Linked DNA regions of Homo sapiens: regions 1, 2, 4 and 5 are each reported to be linked to region 3. The links are microRNA targets in miRTarBase. Many come from high-throughput screens and were not tested one by one. Region 3 holds a microRNA gene; each other region holds the end of a gene's coding sequence.
The links. Region 3 holds the annotated microRNA hsa-miR-939-3p (CCCUGGGCCUCUGCUCCCCAG, at 2,917-2,937, opposite strand). A microRNA usually pairs through its seed, bases 2 to 8, with sites in the 3' UTR of a target mRNA and lowers its output. Matches are read on the target gene's strand: a 7mer-m8 pairs with bases 2 to 8, a 7mer-A1 pairs with bases 2 to 7 and ends in A, and an 8mer does both.

Region 1 (4,205 bases), not on the chromosome of region 3:
CTGAGCAGGTGTCAAGTGCACAGAACTCTTCTCTCCTCGTCCCTTCTAGAATGTCCATATCCTCATTCTGGAATCTGTGACTATGTTAGTTAAGATTCAGAAGGAATTTTATAGGTGTGATTAAATTAAGGATCTTGAGAAAGGGGTTATCTTGGCTTATCCAGGGAGCGCAGTGTGGTCACAAGGATCCTTGTAAGGGGAGACAGAGAGGAAGGAAGGCTACACTGCTGGCTCTCGACAAGCTGATGGCGCCATAAGATGGGAGCGGTGATGTGCCCTAGAAGCTGGAAAAGACAAGGGAACAATTTGCCCCAGACCCTCTAGAAGCAACGCAGCCCTGGGGACCACTGTAGACTCTTACCCATAAGAGAACTGCAAGAGGATAAATGTGTGTTGTTTTAAAGCACTGAGCTTGTGATATTCTGAATAAATGTGCATTTATTCACATTTATAATAAGAACTGTCAAATAAACATGTGTTGCTTTAGGGCACTGAGTTTGTGGTATTTTGTTCCAGCAGCAATAGGAGACCAATGCATGGTCTTTCTGGACTTTTAAGGAATTTGCTCAGCTTCTTCCCAAGTCAGAGACTTCAAACGTGTTGCCCCCATGGCCCAAGCCACCCTCTCTTCCCTCCCAACCTGTCCCTTCAGCTGGGTAATCTCCCTCAGCTTTCTGGCCTTGACCTACCTGATTCTCCCTGGCCCTACCTAGGCAGGCCAGGTCTTCATTCATCATCCGTCAACCCCTGCCCGTTGCTCTCATGACATCCTTTACTTTCGCACAAGCTTGTCCAACCCTCCGCCTGCAGGCTGAATGTGGCCCAACATAAATTTGTAAACTTACTTAAAACATTATGGGGTTTTTTTACGCGATTTTTTTTTTAGCTCATCAGCTACCGTTAGTGTAAGTTTGTTGTTGTTGTTGTTGTTTTTGGGATGGAGTCTCACTCTGTCACCAAGGCTGGAGTGCAGTGGTACCATCTGGTCTCACTGAAACCTCCGCCTCCTGGGTTCAAGCGATTCTGCTGCCTCAGCCTCTGGAGTAGCTGGGATTCCAGGCATGAACCACTATGCCAGCTCATTTTTGTATTTTTAATAGAGACAGTGTTTCACTGTGCTAGACAGGCTAGTCACAAACTCCTGACCTCAGGTGATCCGCCCATATAGGCCTCCCAAAGTGCTGGAATTACAGGCATGAGCCACTGCGCCCAGCCCCTGTTCATTTTTTTATGTGTGGCCCAAGACAATTCTTCTTCCAATGTAGCCCAGGGAAGCCAAAAGATTAGACGCCCCTGCTTAGCATATCCTGGGTCTCCCTCACTCCTCGCAATCCATCGCTGTCCCCCAGGGCCTCCAGCTGCAGCACCTCTCTGTCCTGCAGCCATTTACCTCATGCTCCTCCCTGACTGCTGGACTGAGGCTCTGTGAGGTCAGGGCCTGGCCCAGACATGGCTCAATGGATGCTCAATAGAAAGGCTGGATGTTGGAGGTGTGAGGACAGCCAGCTCCACTCCATCCCACAGCTGTCTCCTGCAGCAACCTTTCTGCACCCCCTGGCTCCTCCTCCTGTCATTCATTCATTCAACTCATTTGTTCAACTCCTGTCATCCACTCATCCAACAAACATAGAGGACTTAGCCTGTGTCAGGCTCTGACTTTCAGTTGGGATGGAAGACAGCGTCCTTACATGGACACTTGGATGACTAAGGAAGGAACTTAGTAGGTGCCAAAGTGACCCTAAGGTAGGTGCAACCTTTCTGCACCCCCTGGCTCCTCCTCCTGTCATTCATTCATTCAACTCATTTGTTCAACTCCTGTCATTCACTCATCCAACAAACATAGAGGACTTAGCCTGTGTCAGGCTCTGACTTTCAGTTGGGATGGAAGACAGCGTCCTTACATGGACACTTGGATGACTAAGGAAGGAACTTAGTAGGTGCCAAAGTGACCCTAAGGTAGGTGGCCTGAGGCCAGCAGGTATCCTGTGAAAACAATGGCAGAGACTCAGGCTCCCATACTGGGAGTCATATTATTGGTGTGCAGTACAAAATCACTGACAAAACACACCTGTGCCCATGAGCCAAGCATGCAAAGGGCCAAAGGTGTCTGCTGGAATTTCTTCAAAGAGGCAGCTCTGTGCGAGCACTGAGCATGCACACTTGTGGACCCCTGTCCTGGGCGAGGACCATGCCTGAGTTCTTCTGCTAGGAGATCCACCCTCTCTCCCAAATCACTCACCAGAGGTTCTCCCCTCTGCCCAGGCTCATAAAGATTTGAGAGCTCAGCCAGGTGCGGTGGCTCACGCCTGCTAATCCCAGCACTTTGGGAGGCCGAGGCAGGCGGATCACGAGGTCAGGAGTTCGAGACCAGCCTGGCCAACATTGTGAAACCCTGTCTCTACTAAAAATACAAAAATTAGCCAGGCGTAGTGGTGCGCACCTGTAGTCCCAGCTACTCAGGAGGCTGAGGCAAAAGAATCGCTTGAACCCTGGAGGCAGAGGTTGCAGTGAGCTGAGATCGTGCCACGGCACTCCAGCCTGGGCAAGAGAGCGACACTCCGTCTCAAAAAAAAAAACAAAAAAAAAAACACAAAGATTTGCGAGCTCAGAGACAAAGGAAATGCCATGTGTTTTCCCCTTCTTCTGAGCCCCGTGGGGCCAGAGCACGCCTTCCTCTGCCTTGGCAATGACAGACAAGCTGGGGTCCTTCCCCATTGCCAGCTCTGCAGCACTGCCCTCCTGGGAACCACATTCAGTCATTCTGTGGAGTTTTCATGATGGGTTTCATCATCAGATTCATTTCCTCCATGGGAGTAGACTCTTCAGCAAGTCACATTACCTCTCCGGGCCTCAGTTTCCCCTCTTGTGAAACAACAGGGTAGAACTTAAGGGCCCTTCCTGTTTTCTCTGACAGTCTGAATCTGTCTTGTGCACGTACATAGCCCTGCAATAGTGTCAAAGATCTTTAATTGTTGGATGGAAAAGAAAGGAACCTGTGGGTTTTGAGGGGGGACAGGTACCGCCAAATGCAGATGATGATTCTGAGAGCACCTTTGACGGGCCAGATCTCGTACTCTGAGTTTATCTGCGCCACTTGTTGTCTGGCAAGTCCAGTGATGCTGTGGTCTCCAGCTGATTCTATCTGAGCTGCTCCTGGGGTGGCAGCTCTCAGAAGTGTGGGAGAGGATGCAGGCGATGGGGAGGGACCGGGACCGCATGCTCCCTCCAGGACATAGCGCACAACGGTGGTCTGGGGTAGGATGAAGTATAAGTGCTCTGCTTCAGGCCAGCCTTGGGTGTGAGCTGTCTCTGCTTGAGCTGCTCATAGAGTCCATAGTTTGTAGGGGGAGCTGCAAGAGAAACCAGGGTCCAGTTGAATGGGGCTTACAGAAGGAGTCTTGCTCTAAATGGCCAATGGCCACGAGACTGGGCAGCAGGGGCCCTGGAGATTTTCCCAGGCTGCTCTGTCAGGGACCAAGGCTGGCAGAGGCCCACAGGGAAGAGCCTTGCAGAGAGCATTGGTTCAGCCAGCCCCTGGCGGTCTCAAGGTGCACCTGCATCCCAAGTGCTCAGGGGAGATCAGGCTCTGCCACGGGGGCCTTGGAAAAGTCAGCCCCATGGTGTGGTTGTGCGTGGCCTCGCTGGTCCTGAGTAATTGTCCCACCCCTGTCGGGAAGGAAGCTGTGTGCACTGAGAGTGATGTTGAGAAGAATCCCATGCAAAAGTAATGCAGAGTGACCAGCAGCTCATCCTCTGACCTGTGTCCCTTTGCATCAAAAGGTAGGACCACAAAGAGCTGGCACTGCTCTGTGTCCTCACTAGTGTGGACGTGGCTTGAAATGTAAATCACATCAAGGCACTCTCCTACAAAAGTGCATTCCAAGTCTTGGGATTGTGGATAGGACAAATTTCATTCCCTTCACTGTGCCCTATGAACCCCTACATGATCCTCCTCCATTCCTGCCTTAGAACTTTTTCATTTACTGTTCCTTCCTCTGGAATGTCCTCCCCCTCAATCCCTGTATGGCTCCCTTCTTCCCAATTCAACTCTATCTCCTCAACAAAGACCACCCCTCACTTTTCCAAGGAGGAATTTGTGAACCAAAGGAGGTTCACAAATTCACCACCTCACTTTCTCTCCATTACCTGTTTTCTTTATAGCGCACACTCCTGTCTAAAATTATCTATGTGATCTTAAGTGTTCT
Region 2 (3,000 bases), not on the chromosome of region 3:
CGACTATGCTTTGTTAACAACTTCCAAAGCCAAATGTAAGTTGTTGTGACTAAAATGCCTCCCCAGTACATTTCTGGAGGATTAACCTTAATATGTTTAGCAGCTAGTCTGATTTCCACTCTACAAAAAGGAAAATGATGCTATAAGGGAAAGATAATGAACAAAGTTATAATATGTAAGACTTCCTGGGAAGAACTTGAACCATTACTAGGGAGACCAAGGAGAGGTGTTTCTGTTCCATACTATAGCAACCAGCCTTAACACTCTGTAATACAAAGTGCATTTCTGGTCCTACCCAGCCATAAATACCATACATCCCTTTTATTAATTATATCAAAGAAAGCCCAACTCTTCATCAACAAGATTTAGAATTTCCTAATAGCTTTAGTTTTTCCCTAAAAAAAACTGTGTAAAAGGAAAGCTCGAGTCTATAAACCAAAAAAAAAAACCCACAAATATTTACATGTACTCTGATTTAAACAATTTCAAATGAGATTAAACTGAATGAATATAGAACTTGTACCACCATTATAGAAGGAAAGAAAAAAAGCTTAAAAGGTACCCAAATATTTTAATATTTATGGAATTAAATGATACAATTTTCATTAAGACCCCAAATATCCCACCACTTTTTAGCTTTGCTGTATAATGAAGGTTAGTAACTTATATGTTAGTGTGAACACATTTACTTTGGCTGATAGCAAAACATAGATTTTTTAAAATGTTCTAAGAAGCCAAAGAATTAGACCAAAATGTTCAGCACCAAAAAACAAAACAAAAAAACTAGCTCAATACTTCAGGTTAAATACACAATATCAAGAAATTTTATTTAGGTCAGCACATGGCTGTTACTATGACTGATACTGCATGCTATTTCTAGAATTAGATATGTATCTTTCTGGCTGGATGCGGTGGCTCATGCCCGTAATTCTAGCACTTTCAGAGGCCAAGGTGGCCGATTGCCTGAGCTCAGGAGAGACCAGCCTGGGCAACATGGCGAAACCCCGTCTCTACTAAAAATACAAAAAATTAGCCAGGTGTGGTGGTGCACGCCTGTAGTCCCAGCTACTCAGGAGGCTGAGGCATGAGTATCGCTTGAACCTGGGACTCAGAGGTTGCAGTGAGCCAAGATTGTGGCACTGTACTCCAGCCTGGGTGACACAGCGAGACTCTGTCTCAAAAAAATAAAATAAAATAGATATATAACTTTCTGAAGATTTAAGCCAGACTTCAATTCCATGTACTCACCCATAGTACTAAAATGGATTAAAGATGGTAAATAAGGCCGGGTGTGGTGGCTTACGCCTGCAATCCCAGCACTTTGGGAGGCTGAGGCCAGCAGATCACAAGGTCAGGAGTTACAGACTAGCCTGGCCAACAGGGTGAAACCCTGTCTCTACTAAAAATACAAAAATTAGCCAGGTGTGGTGGTGCGTGCCTATAATCCCAGCTACTTGGAAGGCTGAGGCAGGAAAATTGCTTGAACCTGGGAGGCGGAGGTTGCAGTGAGCCAAGATCGCACCACTGCACTTCAGCTTGGGACAGCGTGAGACTCCGCTCAATTAAAAAAAAAAAAAAAAAAAAGATGGTAAATAAATCAGACAACTTGGTAAGAAAATGGCCTTTTTTACAGAACCAATTGGGAAGTTAGTGTCATGCATTAGCAGATAAGACTAGGAATACAGCTAAACCAATTATCAAAATATAGTTCTTCAGGGTATTTTTCAATGAAATGTTTAACTACTTGAAAACTACCTGGTCCAATTTTTTGTTTTCGCCCTGAGACGGAGTCTCACTTTGTCGCCCAGGCTGGAGTGCAGTGGCACAACCTCAGCTCACTGTAAACTCTGCCCTCCGAGTTCAAGCGATTCTCCTGCCTCAGCCTCCCGAGTAGCTGGGATTACAGGCACCTGCCACGGCACCCAGCTAATTTTTCATATTTTTAGTAGAGATGGGGTTTCACCATCTTGGCCAGGCTGGTCTTGAACTCCTGACCTCGTGATCCACCCGCCTTGGCCTCCCAAAGTGCTGGGATTACAGGCGTGAGCCACCACGCCCGGCCTACCTGGTCCAATTTTTAAGATGAATAAAATTCCAATATTTTCAGAAACACATGTGGGTAAAAAAGGTAACACTAAAGAATGGTATCTCAATATTCAATTTTAAAGAATTTATTTTCCCATTTGTAGAGTAACATTATTGTAAAATCTACAGTTATCGCAATACCTGCATTGCTTAAAAGAATTCCTAAGAATTTTGTTAAAGCATATTTTTTTTAAAAAACTGAACCAAAATAATGTACATTTTATCTCTAAACATTGTGTCATTAAAGTCCATATAACATCTTCCGTAAAATCAATGTGATGTTACAATTATATACATGATCTGATTCTTCTCCTAAAGGCTTCTCTGACCATGTATGATATCCAAGATAGATCCAATGCCTTTAATATCAGACTGTAGAGACAATTATGATCCTAAACAAAAGAAGGAAAAGCTGTATATACAAGACAGCAATATGACAGTTTAGCTGTTTGCAGCATCTGCTTGGCGGGGCCATCCTTCTTCTTCAACTCCAGAGTCATACTCCTCTTCAGAGGATTCTTTTGTTGGAGCCCTACAATGAAAAGCCATGTTTGTTTTTTTAAAATAAAAAATGGAGGTAAACATGATCTTTAAAATCAAAACAGCAAAGTAACCTCTCCTAGCTAAGAAAGCCACGATAATAGAAAATATTAGGAGCACTTTTAATATTAAGACGGCTTAGGCCGGACACAGTGGCTCACATCTGTAATCCCAGCATTTTGGAAGGCCGAGGAGGGCTGATCACTTGAGGTCAGGAGTTCGAGACCTGCCTGGCCAACATGTTGAAACCCCATCTCTACTAAAAATACAAAAATTAGCCGGGTGTGGTGGCACACACCTGTAGTCCCAGCTACTCAGGAGGCTGAGGCAAGGGAATCGCTTGAACCCAGGAAGTGGAGGTTGCAGTAAGCCGAA
Region 3 (4,205 bases):
CTGCACGATGGCACCAGCGTGGCTGTGAAGGTATATGGGGGCTGCCTTGTTCAGCAGTGGGCTGGGGCGGGGCACAGTGGGGCCCCAAGTTCTCACCACACCCTCGCCCAGTGCAGGTGCAGTACATCGACCTGCGGGACCGCTTTGATGGGGACATCCACACCCTGGAGCTCCTGCTGCGGCTCGTTGAGGTCATGCACCCCAGCTTTGGCTTCAGCTGGGTCCTCCAGGTACAGCCCCACCCCTTCCCCGGCCAGCAGGAGCAAACACGTAGGCAGAGCTGGTAGGAGCAGCTGGTAGGCAGAGCTGGTCTTCAACCGCCATCTGGCCCCCAGGACCTGAAGGGGACCCTGGCCCAGGAGCTGGACTTCGAGAATGAGGGCCGCAACGCAGAGCGCTGTGCGCGGGAGCTGGCGCACTTCCCCTACGTCGTGGTGCCCCGCGTGCACTGGGACAAGTCCAGCAAGGTGGGCTGGGCCAGGCCCTTGGGGTGGGCACAGCGCTGGGCCTGCTGAGCCCAGCCTCTTGCTCTCCCCAGCGCGTGCTCACTGCCGACTTCTGCGCCGGCTGCAAGGTCAACGATGTGGAGGCCATCAGGAGCCAGGGGCTGGCAGTGCATGACGTGAGTGCGGGGGGGCGGGGGCGGGTCAGGGCGGGCTGGTGCTGTGTCCACTGCAATGCCTCTCCTCTCCCCAGATAGCAGAAAAGCTCATCAAGGCCTTTGCTGAGCAGATATTTTACACCGGCTTCATCCACTCGGACCCACATCCTGGCAACGGTAGGAATTTACCCCAGGGGTGGGGGTCTCAGGGTGGGCGCAGCGCGACCTAAGAGGCTGTATCCCTAGTTCTGGTGCGGAAAGGCCCGGACGGGAAAGCGGAGCTGGTGCTGCTGGACCACGGGCTCTACCAGTTCCTGGAGGAGAAGTGAGCGCGGGTGGGTGGGCGTGGGGCAGGGCAAGCCTCTCCTGCCGCAGGGAGCTCATGGCTGCGGGCCCATCCACACCCAGGGACCGCGCAGCCCTCTGCCAGCTGTGGCGGGCCATCATCCTGCGGGACGACGCCGCCATGAGGGCGCACGCAGCCGCACTGGGGGTGCAAGGTGAGGGCGTGCGGGGATGGCTGGGGCACCACAGAAGGGAGTCGGGCGGCGCGGAACCCACTCAGAGCCCCCTCCCTCCCTCCCTCCCTCCCTCCCCAGACTACCTCCTGTTCGCCGAGATGCTCATGCAGCGCCCCGTGCGCCTGGGGCAGCTGTGGGGCTCGCACCTACTGAGCCGCGAAGAGGCGGCCTACATGGTGGACATGGCCCGCGAGCGCTTCGAGGCCGTCATGGCGGTGCTCAGGGAGCTGCCGCGGCCCATGCTGCTGGTGCTGCGCAACATCAACACCGTGCGCGCTATCAACGTGGCCCTCGGCGCCCCCGTGGACCGCTACTTCCTTATGGCTAAAAGGTCGGTGGCCCGAGGAGGCGCCCGGGCCGTGGTGGGGCTGGTGTGGGGCTGACGCGGCGCTAACGCGGGTGTGTGCAGGGCTGTCCGGGGCTGGAGCCGCCTGGCGGGCGCCACGTATCGGGGTGTCTACGGCACCAGCCTCCTGCGCCACGCCAAGGTCGTCTGGGAGATGCTCAAGTTTGAAGTGGCGCTCAGGTGAGTGGCCGCGGGGCAGGTGGGTGGCGGGGGCCTGCTCCCCACCCACCTGTGACCTGTGACCTGACCCACGCAGGCTGGAGACCTTGGCCATGCGGCTGACCGCCCTCCTGGCTCGTGCTCTGGTCCACCTGAGCCTCGTGCCCCCAGCGGAGGAGCTCTACCAGTACCTGGAGACCTAGGGTGCAGCCGCCCAGGGCCGGCGGGGCCCTTTTCACCTTGGGCTGACGGAGGTGGCGGGGCTAGAGGTGTAGACACCCCGAGCCCCGTGGGCACTCGCACTGGGGGGCTGTGACAGCAGCTGGGCCAGGAGGCCGTGTAATGACCACACACTCCTCTCAAGCAAAAAATGTTTTTCCTTGTGTTTTGTACAAAAAGGGGGTGGGAGGTAGTTCCGTGTGCTGGTGGTGACGGCATCCACGGGGCTAGAAGTGGGCGGTGACGCGGTCCGTCTCCAGCAAGTCGTCCAGGATCTGCAGGGGATGGAAGGGTGGGTGGGTGGGTGGGTGGGGATGCACACGGAGGGGCGGGGCGCGCGGGGGGCGGGGCGCGCACTCACTATGTCTGGTGTGGTGCCGATCTTCTTGGCTAGCTCGCTGCGCTCCATGGTGCTCAGGTACAGGTAGCGGTTGAGCAGCTCCCCATCCAGCACGTTGCGCACGGCATTCTGGAGGGTGCGGCGGTCCACGTGCAGCATCCTGGGGCGTACAGGCACAGGTGTCAGGGCAGGCTGGGGTGGAGGGGGTGCTGCACGGGGGCGGGGCCGGGGCTCACCGGAAGGCGCGGGGGTTGAGGCCGGCGTGGTGTGGCAGCATGGTGGTCAGCGCGTTCTGCAGCATCAGCAGCCGCCGGTAGGTCTTCTCCTGCATGGGCAGCAGCAGCCCGATGCCGCCGTCCAGGGTGGCTGGCAGGGGTAGGGTGAGGGTTTTGGTGTGAGCCAGGCCAACCCTAGGGCCCCCCACCCAGACACACCTGCTCCCCCACACTCACCAAACCACGTGATGTGCTTATTCTCCCACACGACCGACTTTTTGCTGAGCCCTTCAGTGGCCCCCCGGCACGGGGTCCTCCAGAACGTGTTCACGTGGGCACCCACGTGGAAGTCTGCCCGACGCAGCAGGCGCATGCCCCCGAAACTCTCCTTGGCTAGACCAGAAAGGCCTAGGGGTCACTGCTAGCCCAGCCCCGGCCCAGGCAGAGGGGGTGGAGGAAGCACTCACCTTCGGGCAGGTACATGTACACCATGAGGTTGCGGTCGCGGTCAGACACTGGGGAGCAGAGGCCCAGGGTCAGCCCCGGCCACCCCCAGAGCCTCAGCTCCCCAGGGCCCTGCCCACATACCCAGAAAACCCAGCTGGGCATTGTCCACCATGAAGTCCACGCTGTACACCTCCAGGGGCTTGGCATCCTGGGGGCGGGAAGGGGGCGTCAGAGGTGCCTTGGGCGGGTACCCACCCAGACACGAGCACCGCCGCCACAGGTGTACCCGCGACACCAGGCTCAGCGTCTTGCTTTCCTCCTGGTAGCGCAGCAGCGAAATGCTCTTCATGACGTCGGCTGCCAGGATGAAGTTCTTGACGCTGATCATCTGGTGTATGTAGAGCTGCGTGTCGATGAAGGCCATGCCCGTCAGCTCGCTGGCCCGCAGGCTCCACAGGAAAATCTGGGGGCGAGGGCGAGGGTGAGCGGGCGCGGACGGGGAGCCGGGTGAGGGTGAGCCGGGGGACACACGCCGGGTGGGACTGGCACACCTTCTGGCCGATGGCCGACACCAGGTGGCCATTGCAGTGGCACAGGGCGGTCACGGGCCCCTTCTGCTCCTTCTCGTAAAGGACTTTGAACTTGTTCTTGGTCAAGGGCTGGCCAGGCTCGGGCACCACCTCAATCACATCCATGATCAAGATCTGGAGGGCATGGGTATGGCTGTGGGATGGCTGTGGGGATGGCAGAGGGGCTGCCAGTTCCCGCCCCCGCTCACTGGCCCCTTACCCGCCCTCGGCACGTGACCTCCTCCCCCTGCATGAGGCAGGTCCCGGCGGCCACGTAGCCTTTGAGGCCCGACACGGTCTCCTCACTGCGCAGAGACACTGTCTTCATGCAGGTCACATGCTCCCACTCCTGCAGCTCGATCCTGTGGGGGCCAGGGGCCTCAGGATGCTGCCTGGAGGCCTTGGGCAGACCCCACCCCCGCCGGCCCAGCCTCACCTGGCATTGGGAATAGCCTCCCAGCTGACCGGGGAGATGAGCTGGATGGAGAAGGCCTCCTGCTGGGGGTGGATGTACCGCTCATCTGTGGGGACCAAGGGTGACAGTCAGAGTAGGGCTTCCCCAAGATGCGGCTGAGGATGGGAGTATGGTGTGGGCGTCACCACCTCTCTCGATGGTCTCAAACTCCTTCTCCTCGCCAGTCATGCGTGGGATGCGGGCACACGGCGTGTTGGTGCTGGTGGCCACAGCATACACCTGTGGGTTAGTGAGGGTCACACACCAGTGGCCCGGCCAGGCCCAGAAGGTCCCTGGTGGGGTGGGGGTGGGGGCAGACCTTAGACTCCACGTG
Region 4 (4,205 bases), not on the chromosome of region 3:
TGGTTCAGTGACAAAAGGGAACAGACTCTTTCCAAGAGCAAACTGGGTGACAAGGATAAACTTAGTGGTCTAGCAGATGTGTTTCAGTGGAGTCTCCCACCGTCCATGGTGAAAGCATGCAGGTTTTATTTTCTCAGGGTAAAAGCTTAGGACAGAATTTCCTGAAGAAAGGTACTTCCACCACATACTTAAGAATCACGTGAGATTAAAAATGCAGAGATCTGAGACCCATCACAGATACAGTGAATCAGAATCTTTGTGGTAGGTGGCAGGAATGGCATTTTTGAAAAGCTGCCCCAAATGATTCTGAAACTAAGGCTTCAGAATCATTGTGAACCATCACTTTATATAGATTGGTTCTCAAAGTGTGCCTGAGGGATCCCTGGAGATTCCCAAGACCCATTCAGGGCACTGTGAAGTCAAAACGTTTTTCATAATCATACTAAGGCATTATTTGCTTCTTTTCATTCTTTCACCAGTATACAGAGGTGTTTTCCAGAGTCTACATGATATGTGACTGCACAACAGACTGAATGTAGAAGACATGAGAACCCATCTATCTTCTTTATGACAGAAAGTAATTCCCCCCAAAAAACCGGCCACTTTTCTCACTAAATCGTTTCATGTTTTATAAGTTATTATTGGCTGGGCACAGTGGCTCACGCCTATAATCCTAGCACTTTGGGAGGCCAAGGCGGGCGGATCACCTGAGGTTACGAGTTAGAGGCCAGCCAGGCCAACATGGCGAAACCCCGTCTCTACTAAAAATACAAAAATTAGCCAGGCGTGGTAGTGGGCGCCTATAATCCCAGCTACTCGGGAGGCTGTGGCAGAAGAATCGCTTGAACCCGGGGGGACAAGTTGCAGTGAGCCAAGATCGCGCCATTGCACTCTAGTCTGGGGGAAAGAGCAAAACTCTATCTCAAAAAAAAAAAAGTTATTATTATTACGGCAGGGTCTTACTCTGTTGCCTAAGCTAGAGTGCAGTGGCGCAATCTCGGCTCACTGCAACCTCTGCCTCCTGAGTTCAAGCAATTCTCCTCCCTCAGCCTCCCTAGTAGCTGAGATTACAGGCATGTGCCACCACACCAGGCTAATTTTTGTATTTTTAGTACAGACATGGTTTCACCACATTGACCAGGCTGGTCTCGAACTCCTGACCTCAGGTGATCTGCCCGCTTTAGTGTCCCAAAGTGCTGGGATTACAGGTGTGAGCTACTGCACTAATTTTTGTAATTTTTATAGATAGAGTTTTGCCTTGTTGCCCAGGCTGGTCTCAAACTCCTGGGCTCAAGTGATCCACCTGTCTTGGCCTCCCAAAGTGCTAGGATTACAGGCGTGAGACACCATGTCCAGCCAGAAGTTATTTTTAAATGAATAATTTTTTTTTTTTGAGAAAGAGTCTCGCTCCGTCACCAGGCTGGAGTGCAGGGGCGCAATCTCGGCTCACTGAAACCTCCACCTCCCGGGTTCAAGCCATTCTCCTCCCTCAGCCTCCCACGTAGCTGGGACTACAGGCGCATGCCACCACACCCAGCTAATTTTTTTTGTATTTTTAGTAGAGACGGGGATTCACCATGTTGGACAGGATGGTCTCAATCACTTGACCTTGTGATCCGCCTGCCTCAGCCTCCCAAAGTGCTGGGATTACAGGCGTAAGCCACCGTGCCTGGCCCATAAATAAATATTTTAAAAATTTAATATTTAATATAATAATATATATAGCTCACATAAACAAATGGTCTTGAGATAAAAATGTTTGAGAGTTGCTGTTTCATAGCAGGCATCTCGCACCCTATGAACATTACTGCTGCTATGGACCACTTAGTTCCTTGGCACACTCAATGCATGCTTCATTTTAAATCTGATTCAATAGATCATTTGCAAAAAAAAATGTTAAACTTATTTTCAGGTATGGGGATTTAATCTGACAGTGAAAAATTGAGGTCTAACTGGATTTAGTTAAAGTCTGAGATATAAAGCCTGTTTTTCTTCGTGATATCAAAATGAAATAATCTTTAAATGTATTCACAAGTTGACTCTGATGTATGAAACAGAAAACCAGCTGGGCACGGTGGTTCACACTTGTAATCCCAGCACTTCAGGAGGCCTAGGCAGGCAGATCCCCTGAGGTCGGGAGTTCGAGACCAGCCTGACCAACATGGTGAAATCCCGTGTCTACTAAAAATGCAAAATTAGCCAAGCATGGTGGCGCATGCCTGTAATCCCAGCTACTTGGGAGGCTGAGCAGGAGAATCTCTTGAACCCGGGAGGTGGAGGTTGTGGTGAGCTGAGATTGCGCCACTGCACTCCAGCCTGGGCAACAAGAGCGAAACTCCATCTCAAACAAACGAAAAAGAAACAGAAAACCATACTTTATATGATGCATTTAAAAAATACTAGTAATGTGACACACACCGGCATTATATTCTAAGTGAGTGGTGGCAAATGAATGGCTAATCCCAAATGTTAGCCAAAAACAAATCCATAATTTTTGAAAGAAAATAAAATGGAAAGGGAATAGGCTTTTTAGAAAGATAATTTTCTTTTATTACATTTTTATAAAGTGTAGAAATGTGAGTAGGCAGATTAATCTTGATACTATACTGAGCTACACAATTTTATTCTTTTATTTTTTAAATTAAAAAAATATATAGACAGGGGTCTCACTCTGTTGATCATTCTGGTTTTAAACTCCTGGCTTCAAGTGATCCTCCCATCTCAGCCTCCCAAAGTGCTGGGATTACAGGCATGAGCCATTGCACCCGGCCACAATTATTTATATTTATTTTACTTTATTTTATTTATTTTTGAGAGGGGGTCTTGCTCTGTCGCCAAGCTGGAGTACAGTTGCTCAATCTCAGCTCACTGCAACCTACACTTGCCAGGTTCAAGAGATTCTCCTGCCTCAGCCTCCCGAGTAGCTGGGACTACAGTTGCGCACCGCCACGCCCAGCTAATTTTTGTATTTTTACTAGAGATGGGGTTTCACCATGTTTGCCAGGATGGTCTCAATCTGTTGACCTCGTGATCTGCCTGTCTCGGCCTCCCGAAGTTCTGGGATTACAGGCATGAACCACTGTACCCGGTCGTATTAGCTATTTAAAAACTCAGACAGCTAACATTTAAATAAATCCCTGCTGTCTGGGAATGATGTCTGAATGAATATTGTGAATACATATGCTAATTTATACCATATTAAGATTCTAAACAATACAGCTATTTAATATATCTTGATAACTGGTATTTGAAAATAAGTCTATTTTTCTGGGTAGTCTTTTGGAGAAAGTGCACTGAATATAGTTTCCAGTCATATGCTACTTTCTTAACTTGTACTTATCTAAACATCTTCTCATCAGGAGAGAGTTCAATAGTACTCGAACCAAAAGTCTAGTGAGTCTGACTTCTCCAATCCCCAATTTTGGTTTGCATGTCCACTTACAACCATCATTTCTCTGCAAATTTTCCACTTAGTCTATCAAAAATCAGTGCTCTGAAAGTTCTCTAAAAGATGCAGTTTTTTGGAGTCTCTGAATGATGACAGCATTCTGTAAATCTGCTTCTTCCAGTGTGAGTGTCTCATCTAGCAACCTGAGGACAGGAAGAGCTGTTGCCAGGGAAAACGGAGGACTTCTTTGAGATCCTTGGTATTTTTCAATGAAGTCTTTGATATGGCTTACTCTGTAAAACAGCAAAAACTATTAATATAATTTTAGGAAAATTTGAATTACCTAATTTATAGTAACAACAACTGGTAAAAGTATCTGGATATGTTATTATTAGAGATAGCGTCTTGCTTTGTCACCCAGGATGCAGTGCAGTGGTGCCATCATAATAACTCCTGGGCTCAACTGATCCTCCTGCCTCAGCCTCCCAAAGTGCTGAGATCACAGGCATGAGCCACAACACCCAGACTCTGGATATGTTAATATATAGAATAACTGAATTTATGATATAACTGATTATTTGGGCTATCTTTTAAAGTTTGACTCCCAGAAATTTGATGACAATACTACTACTACTGTTAATTATCTTAGGTAAGATAATTAGTACTATGAATTACTACTGTTAATTATCTTAGGTAAGACAAAGGAATTATGGCTATGTTTTACAGAGGCTGTCACAATTGTATCATGATCGTCATGTAGCCATGGATTATAGAATGCATCCTCATTTCACAGATGCTAAAATGTGAAAAAATGTGC
Region 5 (4,072 bases), not on the chromosome of region 3:
AAGCATCATTCACTTCCAGTAGAAGATCACAGTGAGTAAAGCATAAGAGCTACTGGGATAGATAAATGAATGGGAGAATGGAAAAATTAGAGCAAAGAAGAGAATTGAAATTGAGGGCCAGATAAAGTATGGAAACGGTGAATAATATGGAAGAAGAGGAATTCACAATGCAGCAGAAAGGGAGTAATCAAAATAAGATAGATGTAGGCTGGGCATGGTGTTTCATGCCTGTAATCTCAGCACTTTGGGAGGCCAAGACAGGAGGATCTCTTGAGGCCAGGAGTTCACTACCAGCCTGGGCAGCAGAACAAGACCCCATCTCTATAAAAAAATAAATAAAAATTAAATCTCTGAGAGATGATTAAGAGAAAATCCCACTTAATTTCCCTTACAGGTTAGGGTGCTAGAGCTAGAAAATGAATTGCAGAAGGAGCGTCAAAAACTGGGAGAGCTTCGGAAAAAGCACTACGAGCTTGCTGGTGTTGCTGAGGGCTGGGAAGAAGGTAAGCTGACTCCAAGGATGGGCACTAACCCGCAGCAGGGAGGGGAAGCTGTGTGGCCAGGGCCTTCCCCTAGAATGGAACAGAACAAGGAACCCACCAGATCGGTGGCTTCTTCCTTCTCTTCTCTCCTCATGGAACCTGTTTTCTCTTCCGTTGTAAATAACCTTTAAGCCTAACTTTGGGTGAAGTTATGGTGATTTGAAAGCTTTTGTTGTCACCTTTTAAGACCTAAACATTGATCATAACTCACTCACTGCCATTCCCTCCCAGGCCCAGCTAGCCTTGCCAACTCCCTGGGAATTTAGTTTCTGGCCAGCAGAGAGTTGAAAAATGAATAAATAGTGGTCAGTCGAGATCTGGCAGACAGGGACAAGTGAATTACAAGGTTCTGTCTATCTAGAGCCAGTGAAGGGCAACAATTGCCAAAAGACAGAAGGGATCAGGTGCTAGGCCGGGCGTGGTGGCTCACGCCTATAATCCCAGCACTTTGGGAGGCCGAGGCGGGCGGATCACGAGGTCAGGAGATCGAGACCATCCTGGCTAACACGGTGAAACCCCGTCTCTACTAAAAATACAAAAAATTAGCCTGGCGTGGTGGTGGGCGCCTGTAGTCCCAGCTACTCAGGAGGCTGAGGCAGGAGAATGGCGTGAACCCGGGAGGCGGAGCTTGCAGTGAGCCGAGATCGCGCCACTGCACTCCAGCCTGGGCAACAGAGCGAGACTCCATCTCAAAAAAAAAAAAAAAAAAAAAAGAAGGGATCAGGTGCTGAGAAATGGAGTGGCATGGAGTCACATTCAGGCTGCCAGCCCAGAGACTTGCCATCCATCACCTCGAGTCTATATGTTGTTGTCTGCATGTCGAAAGCAGTCAACTTGATCACAGCCAAGACTGTTCACTCTTAGTGGACTTGACTGACTCTGGGCACCAACCATAGACAGATCCTAGTCATTCCTAGACACGAAACTTGGGGACTATGTGATTACACCATGGTTATAATTATAATGTATTTTTGAGCCCCCATGGTGGCAGGTTTTGTTGGTTAAGTGAATGAATGCATTCATGAGTGCTTTGCAACATAAATTATCATTGTCTTTTAGGAACAGAGGCATCTCCACCTACACTGCAAGAAGTGGTAACCGAAAAAGAATAGAGCCAAACCAACACCCCATATGTCAGTGTAAATCCTTGTTACCTATCTCGTGTGTGTTATTTCCCCAGCCACAGGCCAAATCCTTGGAGTCCCAGGGGCAGCCACACCACTGCCATTACCCAGTGCCGAGGACATGCATGACACTTCCAAAGACTCCCTCCATAGCGACACCCTTTCTGTTTGGACCCATGGTCATCTCTGTTCTTTTCCCGCCTCCCTAGTTAGCATCCAGGCTGGCCAGTGCTGCCCATGAGCAAGCCTAGGTACGAAGAGGGGTGGTGGGGGGCAGGGCCACTCAACAGAGAGGACCAACATCCAGTCCTGCTGACTATTTGACCCCCACAACAATGGGTATCCTTAATAGAGGAGCTGCTTGTTGTTTGTTGACAGCTTGGAAAGGGAAGATCTTATGCCTTTTCTTTTCTGTTTTCTTCTCAGTCTTTTCAGTTTCATCATTTGCACAAACTTGTGAGCATCAGAGGGCTGATGGATTCCAAACCAGGACACTACCCTGAGATCTGCACAGTCAGAAGGACGGCAGGAGTGTCCTGGCTGTGAATGCCAAAGCCATTCTCCCCCTCTTTGGGCAGTGCCATGGATTTCCACTGCTTCTTATGGTGGTTGGTTGGGTTTTTTGGTTTTGTTTTTTTTTTTAAGTTTCACTCACATAGCCAACTCTCCCAAAGGGCACACCCCTGGGGCTGAGTCTCCAGGGCCCCCCAACTGTGGTAGCTCCAGCGATGGTGCTGCCCAGGCCTCTCGGTGCTCCATCTCCGCCTCCACACTGACCAAGTGCTGGCCCACCCAGTCCATGCTCCAGGGTCAGGCGGAGCTGCTGAGTGACAGCTTTCCTCAAAAAGCAGAAGGAGAGTGAGTGCCTTTCCCTCCTAAAGCTGAATCCCGGCGGAAAGCCTCTGTCCGCCTTTACAAGGGAGAAGACAACAGAAAGAGGGACAAGAGGGTTCACACAGCCCAGTTCCCGTGACGAGGCTCAAAAACTTGATCACATGCTTGAATGGAGCTGGTGAGATCAACAACACTACTTCCCTGCCGGAATGAACTGTCCGTGAATGGTCTCTGTCAAGCGGGCCGTCTCCCTTGGCCCAGAGACGGAGTGTGGGAGTGATTCCCAACTCCTTTCTGCAGACGTCTGCCTTGGCATCCTCTTGAATAGGAAGATCGTTCCACCTTCTACGCAATTGACAAACCCGGAAGATCAGATGCAATTGCTCCCATCAGGGAAGAACCCTATACTTGGTTTGCTACCCTTAGTATTTATTACTAACCTCCCTTAAGCAGCAACAGCCTACAAAGAGATGCTTGGAGCAATCAGAACTTCAGGTGTGACTCTAGCAAGGCTCATCTTTCTGCCCGGCTACATCAGCCTTCAAGAATCAGAAGAAAGGCCAAGGTGCTGGACTGTTACTGACTTGGATCCCAAAGCAAGGAGATCATTTGGAGCTCTTGGGTCAGAGAAAATGAGAAAGGACAGAGCCAGCGGCTCCAACTCCTTTCAGCCACATGCCCCAGGCTCTCGCTGCCCTGTGGACAGGATGAGGACAGAGGGCACATGAACAGCTTGCCAGGGATGGGCAGCCCAACAGCACTTTTCCTCTTCTAGATGGACCCCAGCATTTAAGTGACCTTCTGATCTTGGAAAAACAGCGTCTTCCTTCTTTATCTATAGCAACTCATTGGTGGTAGCCATCAAGCACTTCCCAGGATCTGCTCCAACAGAATATTGCTAGGTTTTGCTACATGACGGGTTGTGAGACTTCTGTTTGATCACTGTGAACCAACCCCCATCTCCCTAGCCCACCCCCCTCCCCAACTCCCTCTCTGTGCATTTTCTAAGTGGGACATTCAAAAAACTCTCTCCCAGGACCTCGGATGACCATACTCAGACGTGTGACCTCCATACTGGGCTAAGGAAGTATCAGCACTAGAAATTGGGCAGTCTTAATGTTGAATGCTGCTTTCTGCTTAGTATTTTTTTGATTCAAGGCTCAGAAGGAATGGTGCGTGGCTTCCCTGTCCCAGTTGTGGCAACTAAACCAATCGGTGTGTTCTTGATGCGGGTCAACATTTCCAAAAGTGGCTAGTCCTCACTTCTAGATCTCAGCCATTCTAACTCATATGTTCCCAATTACCAAGGGGTGGCCGGGCACAGTGGCTCACGCCTGTAATCCCAGCACTTTGAGAGGCTGAGGTGGTAGGATCACCTGAGGTCAGGAGTTCAAGACCAGCCTGTCCAACATGGTGAAACCCCCATCTCTACTAAAAATACCAAAAATTAGCCGAGCGTAGTGACGGGTGCCCGTAATCCCAGCTACTCAGGAGGCTGAGACAGGAGAATCACCTGAACCCCAGAGGCAGAGGTTGCAGTGAGCTGAGATCACGCCATTGTACTCCAGCCTG

Region 1: miRTarBase lists CFAP107 as a target of hsa-miR-939-3p. Seed matches in the 3' UTR shown: 7mer-A1 at 3,152-3,158, 7mer-A1 at 2,738-2,744, 7mer-m8 at 2,538-2,544, 8mer at 2,174-2,181, 7mer-A1 at 1,306-1,312 and 7mer-A1 at 1,006-1,012.
Region 2: the mRNA of CLPX is a reported target of hsa-miR-939-3p. Seed matches in the 3' UTR shown: 7mer-m8 at 984-990 and 7mer-A1 at 184-190.
Region 4: the mRNA of UBXN2A is a reported target of hsa-miR-939-3p. Seed matches in the 3' UTR shown: 7mer-m8 at 2,316-2,322 and 8mer at 1,283-1,290.
Region 5: the mRNA of HIP1 is a reported target of hsa-miR-939-3p. Seed matches in the 3' UTR shown: 7mer-m8 at 2,403-2,409, 7mer-A1 at 3,372-3,378 and 7mer-A1 at 3,532-3,538.

The regions. Positions count from the first base shown.
Region 1 is chr1:12,759,915-12,764,119 of GRCh38, reverse strand. CFAP107 (cilia and flagella associated protein 107) reads right to left here. Exons shown (of 4, transcript NM_152290.4): 4 at 421-3,350. The coding sequence ends at 3,169. Among named protein-coding and RNA genes, the nearest start is that of PRAMEF12, 12 kb to the left of the region's middle.
Region 2 is chr15:65,148,297-65,151,296 of GRCh38, forward strand. CLPX (caseinolytic mitochondrial matrix peptidase chaperone subunit X) reads right to left here. Exons shown (of 14, transcript NM_006660.5): 14 at 1-2,617. The coding sequence ends at 2,527. Among named protein-coding and RNA genes, the nearest start is that of PDCD7, 16 kb to the left of the region's middle.
Region 3 is chr8:144,391,245-144,395,449 of GRCh38, forward strand. MIR939 (microRNA 939) reads right to left here and starts at 2,986; the gene lies at 2,905-2,986. It overlaps ADCK5 (aarF domain containing kinase 5), which reads left to right. Exons shown (of 15, transcript NM_174922.5): 6 at 1-30; 7 at 117-230; 8 at 336-467; 9 at 539-622; 10 at 697-778; 11 at 848-926; 12 at 1,010-1,101; 13 at 1,201-1,453; 14 at 1,532-1,648; 15 at 1,725-1,998. The coding sequence ends at 1,830. CPSF1 (cleavage and polyadenylation specific factor 1) reads right to left here. Exons shown (of 38, transcript NM_013291.3): 27 at 4,191-4,205; 28 at 4,021-4,111; 29 at 3,854-3,938; 30 at 3,638-3,779; 31 at 3,400-3,552; 32 at 3,135-3,311; 33 at 2,990-3,056; 34 at 2,869-2,916; 35 at 2,639-2,794; 36 at 2,423-2,552; 37 at 2,208-2,346; 38 at 1,987-2,121. The coding sequence ends at 2,074. RefSeq lists a silencer at 2,937-3,098.
Region 4 is chr2:23,999,148-24,003,352 of GRCh38, reverse strand. UBXN2A (UBX domain protein 2A) reads right to left here. Exons shown (of 7, transcript NM_181713.4): 7 at 1-3,681. The coding sequence ends at 3,486. Among named protein-coding and RNA genes, the nearest start is that of MFSD2B, 8.8 kb to the left of the region's middle.
Region 5 is chr7:75,535,754-75,539,825 of GRCh38, reverse strand. HIP1 (huntingtin interacting protein 1) reads left to right here. Exons shown (of 31, transcript NM_005338.7): 30 at 395-503; 31 at 1,602-4,072. The coding sequence ends at 1,654. Among named protein-coding and RNA genes, the nearest start is that of SPDYE5, 45 kb to the right of the region's middle.